Homo sapiens: one gene and its partners. The protein of the gene in region 5 purifies or fractionates together with the protein of the main gene of each other region. This does not show direct contact. Each region holds a gene or a part of one and is shown on either strand. Other genes may lie near its edges.

Region 1 (3,519 bases), on a different chromosome or scaffold from region 5:
CAAAATTTAATTTTTATTTATACATTCATCCGTTCAATACACATTTCAAGAAAGCTGTATTGCACCCTTTCAGTGGTAGTTACAGGACAAAGAAACAAAATAATCCAAGAGAGAGACCAACAAATGTATATTTATAACACAGAGTAATAAACACAAATAAATGTGGAGTTATTTAAGCATGTAAGATGGTACATGCTCTACCAGGTATGGGGGCTTCTCTAAGACACAAGATCAGATTAAAGTCTTGAAAGATAATCTGGGGTTAGTCAAGCAGGTAGAAGTGTGAAGAGCACTTTCTGAGCGGAATCTCCATGTGCCAAGTCTAGTTCAAGAGACTGGATAGAGATTAGCAATTTGGAGAATGCAATATTAAGAAATGGCAAAGGTGAGCCTACAGAGATTCCAAAGTTGCATAGTGAGGTTTGTGTTTGAGAAAGTGGACTCAGGCAGCCACGCAAAAGAGGGATTAATAGAAAAGGAGACTGAGGTAGGAAAATCAAGGCATTAGTGTTGCAGCAGGTGTGGGCAGAGTTGGGGAGGCAATGGGATGGATTCATGAGCTATTAAAAAGGTCAAAGGAGCAGGGATTCATGACCCATAAGTATTAATTAATACAGAAGAAGAAAATATCAGAATGAGTTCTAAATTAGGGCCTGAGCAGCTAGATGTTGGGATAATAACAAAAAGACTGCAAAAGGAGAAGATTTACACTTTGGCAAAAAATGTATATGAAAGTATCTGGGAATTTTATGCCATCATTAAATCTACTTATTATGCTGAAAATCCTTGTTAGCTGGAAAGACTAAGAGAATTCCCCAAGGTGCCTAATATATAAACTTGGAGTAGTTTTCCTACTTCAACTTTTATGCGGCTTATTATTTGCAGTCAATTTATATTTGGTCAATATTAGTTAATTCATTTATCATCTCTGTAAGATTGGTTAATGGAAGCAGATTAAAATCCAACAGTGGTAATTTTCTGGAAGTCCTCCAGAGAGACTACAAAAAGCCAAAAGTCAACTTTAATTTTTGAGTACTTTTCCTATTTAAGGTTACTGAGATAAATTGTCTTTGCTAGAAAAAAATAAACAGTATTGCCAATTAAAAACTCCATTTACTATAGAAATATTCCTGATTATTTTACCTTTGGGAAGCAATGCTTGTTGCTTGAAAATTGTATGAGCCTCAATGGTTAGTGGTGGTAAAATGGAAGAATGCATACTGCAGATGGGTTACACATTTGTTTGTGTTCTATATTCCAAGTCACAAATACACTGCTTTGAATTGTATTTAGTCAAACAGCAGATTTGACTAATATTTCCCTGAATTCAAATAGCTTAGATTAATTAAGCTAACTGATTGGTTATCTACCATTATATAGATATTACCCAAGTAATGTTGTCAAAATAATAATTAATTAAACTAAAATAAATGTATGGCCCTGAGACCAGAATAAAATGAAAACCAAGAATAAAATGAAGTTTGCCATTACCGGGATGTATTCAAGTTCAGCAAACTTATATGTGTAGTTAAGATGCTTTACAACAAAATATTGCATTTTGTTATAGCAACAAAGTATTGAGCAGCTTCCAAGTCACTACCTTATGTGTATTATTCATACTAGTAATATTGGTAAACATTAGTGATACAATTTTCACTACCAAAATTTTATTATATTTTTCTTAGCCAATACATGGAGCAAATTTTTATAAAGTATTTCTTGTCAAATCATTGAATTCCTCCTCCCCAACCTTTAAATTCCCTAGTCGCCAAGAATCTTGGGTTCCACACCACCACTCTTTGCTTCTGTTCTTAAAGTTGTTGCCCTTTGAGCAGTGGGACACTTCATGGTCATTTATGTTATCTAGTATCTTGTGGTATGATTTTAGTATTCATTCAAGCATTGACAACTTTTCATGTTGATTCAGATTTTATAAGATTTGATTACAGTGAGTTTATAAAATATTTCAGTTATATATGCAATAGAAACGAAGTATCCTATTTTGGAAGATAAGTCTAAGGCATTCACAGCAATAAAAAAGAAGTGCTTTAGTATTTCTGGACTTCAGTCAAGGGAATTATTATTGTAAAGCACTAATAATGCAGGTTTAGATATTTAACCAGCCATAGATACCAGGAAGCCAGGTGTTAAATCAAAGAACCAGGAAACCATGAGCCACAAAAGCATCAGTGTAGCAGTGTTTTAAGTATTACGACTATATGGACCTGCACCCTAAAACATAAACAATGGTGTACCTTATGAAGTTAAAAACCCTATTTAAGACTAAGAAGCACTTTAGCCTGGTGGGGAAAGCAGTGGTTATGAGTGGAATAAAGACTGGAAAATTTGCTTTTGTAGTGCAGAGCTTTAGAGCAAGCACAGTTTTATTTATTTGCCTTAAACCAATATTTCCGGATAAAAGGTATATTTTTCTTGTGGAGATTGTAGAATAACTATCATTAGCAAAGGCAGAAAGTATTCATTTCAACTTAGTAAAGACATATTTTTTCACTATCACAGAAAGATGACCTTTACATAAAAATTGTTACATATACTTCCATAGATACTAATAGTAAGTATGATTTTTTTTTAAAAAATAACTTTCTAAGACAAATGGCAAAGGCTTTCTTTTTCATGAATTCTTTGGTTATAAACAGGTTTTGAGTGATTTTTGTTCTATGAAGTATTAAGTGATTCTGCTGATATCTGTTCTGTGTGTCCTTTGAAGACCAGAATATAATTAATTTTATTCTGGTCTAACATATTTATTCTGATTTACATTGCTTTTATGTAACATAATTACAGAATGAAAATATACCTTTAGATCTGACATATATCGTTGATGAAGCTCCTGCTGAGCATGTTGCATAAGCTTTTCATCCTTTTAAAACTAAAAACTCAGAGGCTCTTAACAGGAAGGATAAACAAAGCTGAAATACGAACTCTGTATATCTTCCAATGATTCTCGACATGATGTTTTGTATTCACTGGCCCAGAGACTCCTGAGTTAAATAAAGCATAATCAAATATAATTAGTATGTTCTGGTTATTTTATAGTAACTTACTATCACTTTAGCAAAGCAAAAAATACTGGGAAGTGAGGGATCCAATCTACTGCCAAAACAGAGCTCCTACTCTAATGTTGATGAACTAAAAATTTTGAATCTAATCAGCAAAGAAAGTTAGCTTATATGCATAAGTTTATACCCCCAAATATATGGGAATAAATGAAACTAAAATAACAGAAAATCCAGAAAATTTTAGAGGAAAACAAATAAAGCTACATGAAAAATTGTAAAAGAAACTAGTCCGTGGTGATAAAATAAAATATGTAGCCAGTGCAAAAGATTTACTTCTAGATTAGTTGCTATGTGCCCTCTGGTGGAAAATGATTTATTTTTGTATAACTATACTGTATATTTTCCCCTATAATAGTGTTAACAAGCATATTTGAGCACATCATAAATGACCAGATCTTTTATGGAACTAAAAAAAAGTAACTGATTGATAGATAGCCTA
Region 2 (3,519 bases), on a different chromosome or scaffold from region 5:
TTGTCCACAAGTGACATGTGAGCAGTCTCCTCTCCAGCTGCAAACACTTTCCGGGCAACATCAAATGGGCCCTGAAAAAAGAGAGGGACACACCTATTAGAATGGCCAAAATTCAAAACGGTAACATCACCAAATGCTAACGAGGATATGGAACAAGAGGAATTCCATTCATTGCTGGTGGGAATGCAAAACTGTACCGTTTGGTAGTTTCTTACAAAATTAAACATACTCTTACCACGCGATCCAGCAACCACGCTTCTTGGTATTCACCCAAATGAAACTATGTTCACACAAAAATCTGCACAGGATGTTTACAAGCAGTTTTATTTATAATTACCAAAAGTTGTAAGCAACCAAGATGTCCTTTTAGTAGGTAAATAAACAATTTAACTGTGGTACATTCACACAATGTAATATTATTCAACATTAAAAAGAAGTGAGCTATCAAGCCATGAAAAGACATGGGGGGGCAGGGCATGGTGGCTCACCCCTGTAATCCGAGCACTTTGGGAGGCTGAGGTGGGCGGATCACTTGAGGTCAGGAGTTCGAGACCAGCCTGGCCAACATAGTAAAACCTCGTCTCTACTAAAAATAAAAAATTGGCCAGGTGTGGTGGCAGGTGCCTGTAACCCGAGCTACTCAGAAGCCTGAGGCAAGAGAATCACATGAACCCGGGAGGCAGAGGCTACAGTGTGCCAAGATCACACCACTGTACTCCAGCCTGGGTGACAAAGCAAGACTCCGAAAAAAAAAAAACCAAAAAAAACAAAAACAAAAACAAAAAAGTTATGGAAGAACCTTATATGCCATTACTACGTGAAAAAAGCCAACTGGAAAAGTCCACATACTACATGATTCCAACTATACCACATTCTGGAAAAGGCAAAACTATGGACACAGTGAAAGGATCAGTGGCTGCCAGGGGTTGTAGGGAGGAAAGCGGAAAGGAAGAATGAACAGGTAGAGCACAGAGGATGTTCAGGACAGTGAAACTATTCTGTATGATACTACAATGGTGAATACATGTCATTTGTCAAAACCACACAACGTACAACACCAAGAGGGAATGCTAATGTCAACTACGGACTCTGGGTGATAATGAGGTATCACTGTAGGTTCATCGATTGTAACAGATATACCACTGTGGTGGGGGATGTTGGCAGTGGGAGAGGCTGTGCGTGTGAGGGGGACATGAAGTATGTGAGAACTCTCTGTACCTTCCACTCCATTTTTAATCCATAGGCCAGGCATGGATCACCATGTTGGCCAGGCTGGTCTCAAACTCCTGAGCCTCAACTGCTCTAAAAAATAAAGCGTATAGGCCAGACGTGGTGGCTCACACCTATAATCCCGGCACCTTGGGGGCCACAGCAGGAGGATCACTTGAGGCCAGGAATTCAAGACCAGTCGGGGAAACATAGCGAGACCCTGTCTCTACCAAAAATTTTGAAAATTTAAATAAATAAGAAAGTGTATTAACTTTTTTAGAACCTGCTTAATCATTGCTCTAACTATAAATTCTGATTAGCAACTAGGTAAAATACAACACAGAGGAAACTGATACATACCTCTAGTTTCAGAGAGGTCATTAAACTAAACCATTTGACATGGATTATTCTGAACAGTGCAAAACCATTCCAAACACGAAAGCCAAACATAAAGAACTCTGGAAAAGCCATTTTATAATTGTTGAAGCATAAGTATAATTTAAAATTTATCCCTTTCTCAAAATTTATAATTGACATTGACAATCTTTGAGAAAAAAATCATTTGAATTAGAAACACTTTCAGCAGCTGTCTATACTTCCTACTATATATCCCTGGATTCCACAGGCATACCAAGGAACTATAATAACTACTTCTATCAAGCTACCTACAGAACAAGAAGTGTTTTGGCTTAGGAAAGTAACTAAGACATGGACATTTATTTTACCATTTTGATATCCTTTTTGGCTCTGTGAGAATCAGCTTTGGCCTGGTCATAGGTTAATGCTTTACTTCGTGCACACCACATACTCAGATTATGTAAAACCTAAAAGAATCACAAATAAGACAACGTCAAGATAGGAAAATCCTGTTGCTCCCCATCCCTACAAGGTTGAAAGCATTAGTTAAAAATAATCAACAACTGTTACATGATATATATTTAATTTACCTGTCTGATATCTTGATTGGCTCCCAAAATTATTTCATTCATAGCTGGAGGGGGAATCTTTAAACCTTCTTTAAATGCAATAGACATCATAGCACCCTGAAATTGACAAGGGAGGAGTCCTCAATGATTTTTAACTCATATAATCAGGTATTTTAAAAATATTTATCAGGTACTTTTAAAAATTGACCCTTAAATAAATAGGCTAGTGTGATGGAAAAAAAATTTCAATCATCATACCTTAATCTGTTCAACCCGAGGTCTTTGAAAACGAAGATCAAAACAATAATGAACCAGAGAGCGAATCTTGGGATGATTTCTATCATTGCACATACAAATAATGGGAATTTTAGTATGTTTTATCAGGCCAATTAATTCCTGAAAGGCAAGTTTGCAACACAAAAATAATTATTTTAAAAATGACAAATACCACACAAGCTATTTTAGGTTCTAAAAATCTCCTCAGCAACATGCCTTAACTGCCCTAAGTATGAGAGAATGACAATGTTCTAACAATCTAAATTATCAACAGTGAAACTGCAAAAATACAGCACTTGAATTACCTGAATTCCTCCCCTATCCTCATTGCCTGCCATGCCATCTACTTCATCCATGATGAGAGCATGTTTCGTGCTTACTGAAGAGGCTGCTCCATCTGACCCAGGTTGAGGAGCAATGGGATGAGACAAAAACAAAATAACAATTGCTCAAAAACTGCTGCTCTGTAGAAAATTATGTAACAGATATTAAACTTCAAAAGCTACAAGAATATGCAGCACTGGACTACAGAGTGTTGTTAAAGAAAAAAAAAAAAAAAGAATATGCAGAGAAGAGAAACTCTCCCTGCCACCCCTTCCCCTGCAGACCCCAATTCCCTTCCCAGAGGCAAACAACAGTCTCTTATATGTCCTTTAAGAGATATTGTACACATATGTGCATAAAAATATACAACTGAGTTTTGAATTTTTTTTTTTTTGAGACAGAGTTTCACTCGTTGCCCAAGCTGGAGTGCAATGGCACGATATTGGCTCACTGCAACCTCCGCCTCCCGGGTTCAAGCAATTCTTTTGCCTCAGCCTCCCAAGTAGCTGAGATTACAGGCGCACGCCACCACACCCAGCTAATTTTTGTATTTTTAGTAGAGACGGTGTTTCACCATGTTGACCAGGCTGGTCTCAAACTCCTGACCTCAGGTGATCTGTCCGCCTCAGCCTCCCAAAGTGCTGGGATTACAGGCGTGAGCCAACATGCCCAGCCAGTTTTGTCATTTTATGTATTTTGGTGATTCATTCTTTATCTTACAGATACAGAACACTTCATTTTTTAAGGCAATTTAATACTCCATTCTACACTTGTATCACACACT
Region 3 (3,519 bases), 7.6 Mb from region 5:
CCACCCAGAATCAGACTCAGAGGTGGCCTCACCTGCCTTGGTGCCTCCCCTACCTCAGGCAAGTGGGGTGTGTGGCAGGTGCTGGGCATGCAGTGGGGCCCCACTCACCTGCAGAGCAGACCAAAGCTGGAGGGCCTCCCTGTCCCCAGACTCCTTCTCCACCATGTCCATCTGGGGCTGAATGCGCTGCCGGGCATAGAACACGACCCAGTCCTCCTGCCAGTCATTCACCTGCACAGTAACAGCAAAAGCACAGTTCACTGGAAAATGCCAGAACCAAGGGAGAGCTCAGCTACCCACAAGCATCTCAAAGTGGAGAGGGCTGCAGGAGCGGCACGTGGGAGGGGTGGCAGTCACAGGAGCCTGAGGGGGGAACCACATCCCAGGAGGAACCGGAGTCTCATGGACATGCTGAGACCTCAGATCCTATCCCAAGAGCAGTGGGAAGCATGGGGATGCTTCAGGACCCACTCTGTAGCCTTCCAAGAATGAAGGCTTCTAGAACATTTTTTTTTCTTTTTCTTTTTTCTGAGATAGAGTTTCGCTCTCATTGCCCAGGCTGGAGTGCAGTGGCGCCATCTCGGCTCACTGCAACCTCTGCCTCCCGGGTTCAAGCAATTCTCCTGCCTCAGCCTCCCAAGTAGCTGGGATTACAAGCATGCACCACCACGCCCGGCTAATTTTTTTGTATTTTTAGTAGAGACGGGGTTTCGCCATGTTGGTCAGGCTGGTCTCAAACTCCTGACCTCAGGTGATCTGCCCGCTTCAGCCTCTCAAAGTGCTGGGATTACGGGCGGGCGTGGGCCACTGCACCTGGCCCTGCTCCCACTTTCTTTACGTTGTTTTGTAGCAGCTGACAATAGTTCATCAGATGATGCACCAGGACTTCACCCAGTGCTCCTCTGGATTTTCCTTGTCATAGTACCAAGAGTGGCACAGCAAATACCCTTGTGTCTGTGCCATTTTGCATACGTGTAAATATGCCTGTAGAATAAATCCTAAAGGATAATTACTGGGTCAGAGCATAAGTCCATTTAAAATTTTGAAAGGGGGGCCAGGTGTGGTGGCTCATGCTTGTACTAAAAATACAAAAATTAGCCGGACGTGGTGGTGGGCGCCTGTAATCCCAGTCACACAGGAGGCTGAGGCAGGAGAACTGATTGAACCCGGAAGCTGGAGGTTGCAGTGAGCCAAGATCGCACCACTGCACTCTAGCCTGGGTGACAGCGAGACTCCATTTCAAAAAAATAAATTAAATAAATTAAAAAATTTGAAAGGGGGCTGGGAGTGGTGAGCAATATCTGTAATCCCAGCATTTTGCGTGGCTGAGGTGGGAGGATCACTTGAGCCCAGGAGTTTGAGACCAGCCTGGGCAACATAGTGAGACCCCTGTCTCTACAAAAAAAATTAAAAAATTAGCCAAGTGTGGTGGTGTATGCCTGTAGTCCCAGCTACATGGGAGGCTGGGGCAGGAGGATGGCTTGAGCCCAGAAAGTTTGAGGCTGCAGTGAGCTATGATCATGCCACTGCTCTCCAGCCTGGGCAACAGAGAGAGACTCTATCTTTTAAAATTAAAATTAAAACTAAATTTTAAATTTTTGGCCAGGCACGGTGGCTCATGCCTGTAATCCCAGCACCTTGGGAGGTTGAGGCAAGCAGATCACAAGGCCAGGAGATTGAGACTGTCCTGGCTAACACGGTGGAACCCCATCTCTACTAAAAATACAAAAAAAAATTAGCCGGGCATGGTGACAGGCACCTGTAGTCCCAGCTACTCAGGAGGCTGAGGCAGAAGAATGGCGTGAACCTGGGAGGCGGAACTTGCAGTGAGCCAAGATCGCACCACTGCACTCCAGCCTGGGTGACAGAGCGAGACTCCATCTCAAAAAAAAAATTTTTTTTTTGATAGGCATTGCCACGTTGCTGCCCATAAAGATCGTTGTCCCAAGTCACACTCACATCACAGGGTGCCATGGGGCCTGCTCCCTCGTGCTCTGGTTGGCACACATGCAGCACACTTTTGGCCTTTACAGGTTCCATATGTAACAGAAGATATCTGACTGTACTACCTTTTAGTTTACTTTTTACTTTTTTTTTTTCTTTTTTGAGATGAAGTTTCACTCTTGTCACCCAGGCTGGAGTGCAATGGCGTGATTTCAGCTCACTGCAATCTCTGTCTCCCGGGTTCAAGCGATTCTCCTGCCTCAGCCCCCAGAGTAGCTGGGATTACAGGTGCGCACCACCATGCCCGGCTAATTTTTGTATTTTTAGTAGAGACAGGATTTCACCATGTTGGTCAGGCTGGTCTCAAACTCTACCTCACGTGATCTGCCCGCCTCGGCCTCCCAAAGTGCTGAGATTACAGGCGTGAGCCACCGTGCCCGGTCCAGAACATTTTCTTTCTTTTTCATCTTTGTGAAACAAGGTCTTGCTCCATTACCCAAGCTGGAGTGCAGTGGTGCAATCACAGCTCACTGCAGCCTTCAATTCCCAGGCTTAAGCAATCCTCCCACCTCAGCCTTCCAAGTGGCTGGAACTACAGGCACGCACCACCACACCCTGCTAATTTTTTGTATTTTTACTAGAGAGAGGGTTTCACCATGTTGGCCAGGCTGGTCTCGAACTGCTGGGCTCAAGCAATCCTCCCACCTCGGCCTCCCAAAGTGCTGGAATTACAGGCATGAACCACCAGGGCTTTTTTATTTAAAAAAAAAAATTTTTTTTTTGCTGCTAAAGCAACTGGCTAACATTTCCTCTTAATTTACAATCACACTGGAGTACTGAGGCCAGAGCTGGCTGACCTGCCCCAACCCCATGGCTCACTTCTGACATCTGTCCAGACAGCCCCTCCCCAGACAGTGATGACAGGAAAAGTCACATGGAGCCCCATTGAGAAGGACCCCGAGAAAGGACATCCAGGTCACAGGTGCTTACCACCCAGGAGGGAAGCAAGACAGACACACACGACTGGAGTAGCACACGACGCCAACATCATGCATCAGGCACACAGTCATGCGCACACACGCCTGCACACATACATGTGCGCGCACACGCGTACACACATGCACACACGTGTGCACACATACACATATGCACACATGCGTGCACATACACATGCACACATATGCACACACATGCACACACATACACATATGCGCACAGACGTGCGTGCACACAAATACACATATGCACACACACACATGCACACACACACTGTGAGTACAGCCACGAGACGAAGGGGCGGAGCTGGCGAAAACCCCCCACCCCCCGCCAGCAGGCAGGACCAGAGGGCACCACTCCCCGCCCCTAAGCAGGTTTCTGAACAAACTTCAACATTTCAAAGTCTTTCTACTGCCCCCGCGCCCGCCAGGAAACCCTGGCAAGTTTTCTGGGTTCATCTGTACCCTCCTCTCGAGGACAGGACAGGAGCCCTGTCCACTGCACATGTGCTGGGCGTCAAGCAGAACTCCCCAGGTGGAAATGCGGAGGGAAGCCACCATAAAATCACACAACCAAAAG
Region 4 (3,519 bases), about 11 Mb from region 5:
TCTCCCGAGTAATTGGGACCACAGGCACAGGCCACCAAACCCAGCTAATTTTAATTTTTCCTTCTTTCTTTCTTTCTTTTTTTTTTTTTTGTAGACAGGGTCTCACTATGTTGCCCAGGCTGGTGTCGAACTCCTGGGCTCAGGCAGTCCTCCCACCTCAGCCTCCCCAAGTGTTGAGATTACAGGTGTGAGCCACCATGCCCGGCCATGATAGGAATTTTTTAAAGACCACTCAGACTGCTGAGAGGTGAAGAGATTAGAAAGGAGTAGAGGTAGATGAGGGCAGGTCAGTGAGGGGCTGCTGGAGTATTCCAAGCAAAAAGATGGTTGTTTGCACCAAACTAGAACAGTGGCAGAGAAGCTTCAGAGAAAAGAACCATCCAAGAGTCGTTTATAAGATAAAAATCAGCAGTATTTGGTGCAGGACTAGATAAGGGCGAAAGGAGGGAGGTCGAGCTTGCATTCGTAGTGAGGAGAAATGTCAATTACCTCTGGCAGAAAGCACAGGCTGAACAAACTCTGCAGCTCACTGGCACTGCACTTCCCTCGGCACCTATTTTTCAGAATTTCTAGAAAAATTTCAAGCCCATCTCTTATTTACTCCTAAATCTATTCCTGAAACTGTCATCCATTTTTAACACATTTATCAAGCATCTACGATGCTCTGGGGATAGAGAGGTGACCAGCAGCTCATGCTCTCTGCGTCTGTCTTCTTTGAGCCCCTGGGTGTTGCCTAGAGGCAGCCTCTAAACCCTCCTGGCAGCAAACACAACTCCCAAAGCTGGGGCTCATCTTACCTTCTGAAACCTTCATACAAGCCACTTAACAGACGCCTCTCTACCTCTTAGAGACATTCCGCAATGCAACAAGCAGCTTGAGTTCTTTTCACTCAGAGATTCACTCCTCATTTCATAATATTCTGAGCCCCAGGAGACATCATAGCATCAAATCAAAACTCCCCAGGTCTTTGAGCCTTGCTCTTAAAGGAAGATCATGAGTCCCACCAGGCAGTTCTTCCTTCTACTACATAATCAAACTCCTTTTCTCTAAAATGTACTGAGTTTGGAACCTACATGCGACTTGTGCCCTTTGATTTGTTGCCCAGATTAGTTTGTGCTGGGCTCTATCCTATCACCAGGAATGGTGGTTTAATAAACCCTGGAGCTATACTGTCCAATATGGGCACATGGAACTATTTAAATTAAAATTAAAGCTTCGGTTTCAGCTTAATTAAAATTAAAGCTTCCAATTCTCAGTTGCACTAACCACCTTTCAAATGTTTAATGGTCTGTTGTACCATGATGCACAGAGGCACTGCTACAGGGTTGTTTGCATGTTTGATGTGAATTTCCCCTTTAAAAAATAAAAATGAAATTCAACATATAGAAACTTTCGACATATTAACTTGTGTCCTGTTTCATGCTACAAGTGAATACTATAAATTGAACTTAAAGTAACATATGCCACTAAAATACTGCTTCTTAATCAGTTTCACAGTTTGGGCTTTGTGTAAAATTCATTTGCTAAGAATGTTTGAAAATAACCTGTGACTTCATCATGGGCTCATAATTTTATGAGCCACTGTGGACAAACACTGTCCTTTTTTGTTTGTTTGATTTTTAGATACAGGGTCTTATTCTGTCACCAACGCTGTGGTGCAGTGGTGCCATCATGGCTCACAGCAGCCTTGAATTCCCAGGCTTAAGCAATCCTCCTCCCAGCTCAGCCTGCCAAGTAGCTAGGACTACAGGTGTGTGTCACTGCATCTGGCTTTTTTTTTTTTTTTTTTGTAGAGGCAGGGTCTCACTATGTTGCCTAGGCTGGTCTCAAACTCTTGGCCTCAAGTGATCCTCCACTTCGGTCTCCCAAAGTGCTGGGATTGCAGACATAAGCCACAGCACCTGGCCTTTAAAAAAAAAAAATGTACCTTGCACACTGCCCAGTACAGTTGCTACTTAGTAAATACATAGACTAACTGGTCATCTTGAAAGCACTCTTAATTTTATATGCCTACTTCTCATACACAAGTCTGTAAGAGGTTTCCACTAAATGTTCATTTCAGATTCTGAATTTCAACTACCTAACACCAGCCCTATAATTATGCAGTGTGCAGGCATTTTTTTCTCTAGAATATCTACCAAATGATTTTATAGTCCAAAGACACATTTATACTGTGACAGAAAATCCACCAACAATGCTTCATTGTGGAACTATCTTGGAACAAGATTAGCAAAAGTTGATAATTATCAAAATTGAGTAATAGATGCCTGATATCCATTATATTATTCTTCACTTTTGTGTATGTTTTTTAAAATTCCAGAGCAAAAGATATTTTGAAAAACTTAGTCAATTATATACAAATTTGATGAGGCCTCACACATACTTTACAAGATAACTATAACTTAAATATGGCTGGGTTCATAGCACTTTATTGACTATCCCAAGCCAGTGACCTGTTTCATGAAGTCCTCTCCTTGTATGGTCCTGAGGCGTGGTTGTTCCTTTGAATGGGGAAACATCATCAAATCTCGCTGGAGATGGGGTTCAGGCAGGTTTTGCACACAGCAACTCCGAGTTGTCATGTTTGACCACCTGGCTGTAAGGCCAGTAGTCTCTGTCTCCTCTTATCAGGAAAAAAGGTGAAAGATCTGCCCGCATCCAAACACTAAAGCAAACAACTGCAGGCAAGAGCAGAGGAACAGCTGCTTCCGGTCCACCTTGCTCCACACTCAGGACTGCACCCACTGCAGAGATGCCTACAGGTAGGGCCAAGTCTCCCAGGTACGGGTGCTGAATGCTTAGCACACCACAGAAAGTCCAACATAATCTACCTTAGAATGCCTCCATGGATACACCTACTCAGCTGTCTTAGTTTTACCTTCTGCCCTATGGTTACGCTACACATGGAATCATGGGAAATGCTGACTAGGAAGAGAAGCTCATCCACTCGAAATCAAGTTCCCCACAGCCCTGAGAGTCAGCAAACCCTACCCACAGTCCTTTCTGTACATGCCAGGCATGGCTCTCAAGGCTCATTCAACCCTCATAGCATCTTGGAGGTGGGAAAGTGAGGCAAAAGAGGTTAAGAAACTTCCCGAGGCCCCTTGAGCAGTGTCTGGTTCCCAAGCTTCTGCTCTCCCTGCTACACTATGCTGCCTTGTGACATGTCCTCTGCAGAATGGCACCTTCTGAGCCTGCCCTTCCCATATTCCCCTCTCTGCCCCTCTGCACAGCAGCCAGACATCCACGTTGCTCTCTCTCTTGAAATGCTCTGCCCAAGACCCCCAGTTGCTGGTTTCTTCCTTTTCTTTCTTTCTTGGTGCCCTGTTCTTTTCCTTCAGAGGAAGGAGATTTTACACATATTACAATCCAATATATATGATGCATATGTCTATTGACTTGTTTGTTGTCTAGACTAGATAATGTGCTTTGTGCAGGAAGGAACCACATCTGTTTTGCTCCCCATCAGATTTCCAATGCCAAGCACAATGCTTGGCCCTGGTAGATGCTCAAATACTT
Region 5 (3,519 bases):
AAGTAGCTGGGATTTACAGGTGCCCGCCACCACACCCAGCTAATTTTTTTGTATTTTTAGTAGAGATGGGGTTTCACCACGTTAGCCATGTTGGTCTCGATCTCCTGACCTCGTGATCCACCCGCCTCAGCCTCCCAAAGTGCTGGGATTACAGGCGTGAGCCACCGCACCTGGTCACAAACCCATGCTTTTTTTTTTTTCTTTTTGAGGCGGAGTCTCGCTTTGTTGCCCAGCCTGGAGTGCAGTGGCGCAATCTCAGCTCACTGCAAGCTCTGCCTCCTGTGTTCATGCCATTCTCCTGCCTCAGCCTCCCGAGTAGCTGGGACTACAGGCGCCCATCACAACGCCCAACTAATTTTTTTGTATTTTTAGTAGAGACGGGGTTTCACCATGTTGGCCAGGATGGTCTCGATCTCCTGACCTCATGATCTGCCCGCCCCGGCCTCCCAAAGTGCTGGGATTACAGGCATGAGCCACCGCGCCGGGCCAAACCCATGTTTTTAACTGTTCATACTCTGAGTGCCAGGTTGGAAACCAGCTGTAGCACAACCTCTGGAGATGCTGGACTGGGCCCAGATCTGTCTAAACTGTTCCCCTTTTACCACACTATCTGGCTGCCCTCCCTCCCAGCTCCTCACCGGCCAGTGGTGGGGAGATGAGGAAAGCAAGGCCGTCCAGGACAGTGAAGAGTCCCAGGGCTCTGGGGAACTGATCCATGGGGACGATGTCCATGAGAACCTGGAAGATGAGGGCGCCGATGCCACTCATGGACACGCTGTACGCCAGGCAGTAGCCCACGAGCACCCAGAAGTCACCTGATGCCGCACACACCAGGTTAGTGAGCCCATTGAGCAGGAGTGCCAGGCTGAACAGGTACTTGCGGTGGCTAGCAAAGGCCGGCCGTCCTGCCATCAGCCCGGCTAGGGGCCTCAGGAAGATGTTGCTGAAGCCGATGATGGAGATGAGGAGGGCTGCCTGCTGCTCGTCCACGCTGTGCCACATGGCATATGGCACCAGGAAGACTTGTGGCAGTGGGAAGCCCAGGACGGACCACATCACACCCAGTATGTACACGCAGTAGCCTGTGTTGTGCCGCAGGATGTCGAAGGCCAGGTGGCGCTGGATGGTCCGGCCGCATGCAGCCAGGCAGCCAAGTGCAGGTGTCTCGGGAGGTGGCGGGGGACATTCTTTGGTCTCAGGGGCCACACTGGTGGCCACAGGCCTTATGATGGCCCCGCAGATGCAGCAGTGGAGAAAGATCCCGCCGAAGACAAGGAAGGTACCCCTCCAGCCCAGGTTCTCCAGAAGGTAGCGGGAGAGCAGCGGCCAGAGGGTGATGCCCAGGGAGACGCCCATCGAGGCCAGCGCGTTGGCCAGCACCCGCCGGCGGACAAAGTAGAAGCCCAGCACCGTGATGCTTGACTGGAAGCTGAAGCACATGCCCAGGCCTGCGGGGCAAGAGGGGAAACCAGCCTGGAGGCGCACTGGGGCCTTCCACCTGCACCCAGGGGTGGGGTCAGTGGTCATTTCACACACCTGCCCTCCTCTGGTTCTAGTCCATACCCAGCTCCAAGTCCCTGGGGACTGACCATGGAATCAGCTGGCCTCGCCACCTCCCTGTAGGCACCCCACCCCAGATCTGCCCTCCCAAGGCTGCCAGGGCATCCCTGTTCCCCTAGGTGTAGCACGAGAGTTATCTTTTAAAAACCCAAATTGGGCCGAGCGCGGTGGCTCACGCCTGTAATCCCAGCACTTTGGGAGGCCAAGGTTGGCGGATCACTTGAGGTCAGGAGTTCGAGACCAACATGGTGAAACCCCATCTCTACTAAAAATACAAAAAAATTAGCCAGGCTTAGTGGCAGGCGCCTGTAGTCTGTAATAGCTACCTAGGAGGCTGAGTCAGGAGAATCACTTGAACCCGGGAAGTGGAGGTTGCAGTGAGCTGAGGTTGTGGAGGTTGCAGTGAGCTGAGATTGTGCCACTGCACTCCAGCCTGGGCAACAGAGTGAGACTCTGTCTCAAAAACAAACAAACCCCAAATTGGATTAAGTCTCTCTTGGCTTAACACCTTCCAAAGACTTCCCATCACACTTGACAAAAAATCCACAGTCTCCACAATGCCCTGGAAGGCTCTCTGTGGTCCGGCTCCAGCCCGCCTCTCAGATGCCATCTCAGGCTGCTCCCTGTCACTCATTAGGATCAAGACACAGGAACTTCTTTCTCTGCCTCTGGACATGAAGCTGCCCCTACCTCGGGTTATTTGTAGCTGCTGTTCCTTCTTGGAATCTGCTTCCTCCAGACTTTCCACTCTCCTCTCAGTTCAGACGCCACCTCTCCAGAGGGGCCTTCCCCGCTCCCCACCCACTCAGTGTCTGCACCTGCACACCTGAGCATGCTGGAGAAAAAGTTCTCAATCATGTGTGACCGTGGCCTCAGGCGGGCCCTCAGGCTGCCTGTGACGCCACTACAGCTCCCTCAATCATGCCTTGCCTGCCCTGCTAGGTGACTACCGGTGTCTTCCTCTGTGCCCCCCAACACCTCCTCCCTATCCTTATGCTCAGCTGCCCACATGCCTGCTAGCCAGTGACAATGGCTTGCCCATTCCCCCAGTGGCTGTCCCTCCCTTCTGCCCTGCATCCTCTCCACTCAGAGGCACCCCTCTAGCAAGTCCCCTCTCTCCTGCATCATCCTTTTTCTCTTCTTTCCTAGATCCTTCTCCTTCGTTATTTCTCCCATTAAAAACAAACAAACAAACAAACAAAAAAAGCCTGTCTTGACCTCATAACCACTTCTGGGTATAGTCTGTTCCTCCAGTCCCCTTAAAACAAAATGCCGTGAAAGGGCTGGGCATGATGGGCTCACACCTGTAATCCCAGCACTTTGTTTTTTGTGTTTTTGAGATGGGGTCTTGCTCTGTTGCCCAGGCTGGAGTACAGTGGTGCGATCTTGGCTCACTGCAACCTCCACTTCCCGGGCGATTCTCCTGCCTCAGCCTCGAGTAGCTGGGACTACAGGGGCCCGCCACCAAGCCTGGCTAATTTTTGTATTTTTTTTAGTATAGACAGGGTTTCACCATGTTGGCCGGGCTAGTCTCGAACCCCTGACCTCAGGTGATCTGCCCGCCTCAGCCTCCCAAAGTGCTGGGATAACAGGTGTGAGCCACCGCACCCAGCCAGCAGTTCCAGAAGATTAAGAGGCCTGCCTGCCCTGTCCACTTGTGCCTGGCACTTTCTAGCAGGTGCCTATAAATTCTGGAGATGAAGTGATAGTCACCTGTGATGAATCCTGCTGTGAAGTAGAGCTGGCTGAGGTTGTGAGAGAAGGAGCTGGCCACCATGCCCAGGCTGGCCAGCACGCCCCCCAGCATCACGGTCACTCGGCAGCCGAAGCGTCCCACCAGGATGCTGCACAGGGGCCCTGTGGGAGAAGACAGCCAGCAGGTAGCAGCTGAATGAGGAGGTGGCGGGAGAGGAGGAGAGTGGCTGGAGAGGGCAGTTCCAGCTGGAACTAGCCAGGTGG

What was found.
Region 1: the proteins of SLC16A5 (region 5) and EMB purify together in Homo sapiens (affinity purification with mass spectrometry; one large-scale study listed by BioGRID and IntAct). This does not show direct contact.
Region 2: the proteins of SLC16A5 (region 5) and RFC1 purify together in Homo sapiens (affinity purification with mass spectrometry; one large-scale study listed by BioGRID and IntAct). This does not show direct contact.
Region 3: the proteins of SLC16A5 (region 5) and FN3KRP purify together in Homo sapiens (affinity purification with mass spectrometry; one large-scale study listed by BioGRID and IntAct). This does not show direct contact.
Region 4: the proteins of SLC16A5 (region 5) and TEX2 purify together in Homo sapiens (affinity purification with mass spectrometry; one large-scale study listed by BioGRID and IntAct). This does not show direct contact.

Annotation. Positions count from the first base shown.
Region 1 is NC_000005.10:50,396,289-50,399,807, forward strand, and holds part of EMB (embigin precursor), read right to left. Parts: intron 3,003-3,519; coding exon 2,985-3,002; 3' UTR 1-2,984. UniProt on the Homo sapiens protein: Plays a role in the outgrowth of motoneurons and in the formation of neuromuscular junctions.
Region 2 is NC_000004.12:39,300,344-39,303,862, forward strand, and holds part of RFC1 (replication factor C subunit 1), read right to left. Parts: intron 2,809-3,519; coding exon 2,717-2,808; intron 2,532-2,716; coding exon 2,394-2,531; intron 2,253-2,393; coding exon 2,157-2,252; intron 2,034-2,156; coding exon 1,935-2,033; intron 72-1,934; coding exon 1-71. UniProt on the Homo sapiens protein: Subunit of the replication factor C (RFC) complex which acts during elongation of primed DNA templates by DNA polymerases delta and epsilon, and is necessary for ATP-dependent loading of proliferating cell nuclear antigen (PCNA) onto primed DNA.
Region 3 is NC_000017.11:82,723,192-82,726,710, reverse strand, and holds part of FN3KRP (ketosamine-3-kinase), read right to left. Parts: intron 232-3,519; coding exon 109-231; intron 1-108.
Region 4 is NC_000017.11:64,253,258-64,256,776, forward strand, and holds part of TEX2 (testis-expressed protein 2), read right to left. Parts: intron 1-3,519. UniProt on the Homo sapiens protein: During endoplasmic reticulum (ER) stress or when cellular ceramide levels increase, may induce contacts between the ER and medial-Golgi complex to facilitate non-vesicular transport of ceramides from the ER to the Golgi complex where they are converted to complex sphingolipids, preventing toxic ceramide accumulation.
Region 5 is NC_000017.11:75,097,936-75,101,454, reverse strand, and holds part of SLC16A5 (monocarboxylate transporter 6), read right to left. Parts: intron 3,418-3,519; coding exon 3,274-3,417; intron 1,499-3,273; coding exon of another isoform or gene 1,449-1,498; coding exon 639-1,448; intron 1-638. UniProt on the Homo sapiens protein: Proton-linked monocarboxylate transporter.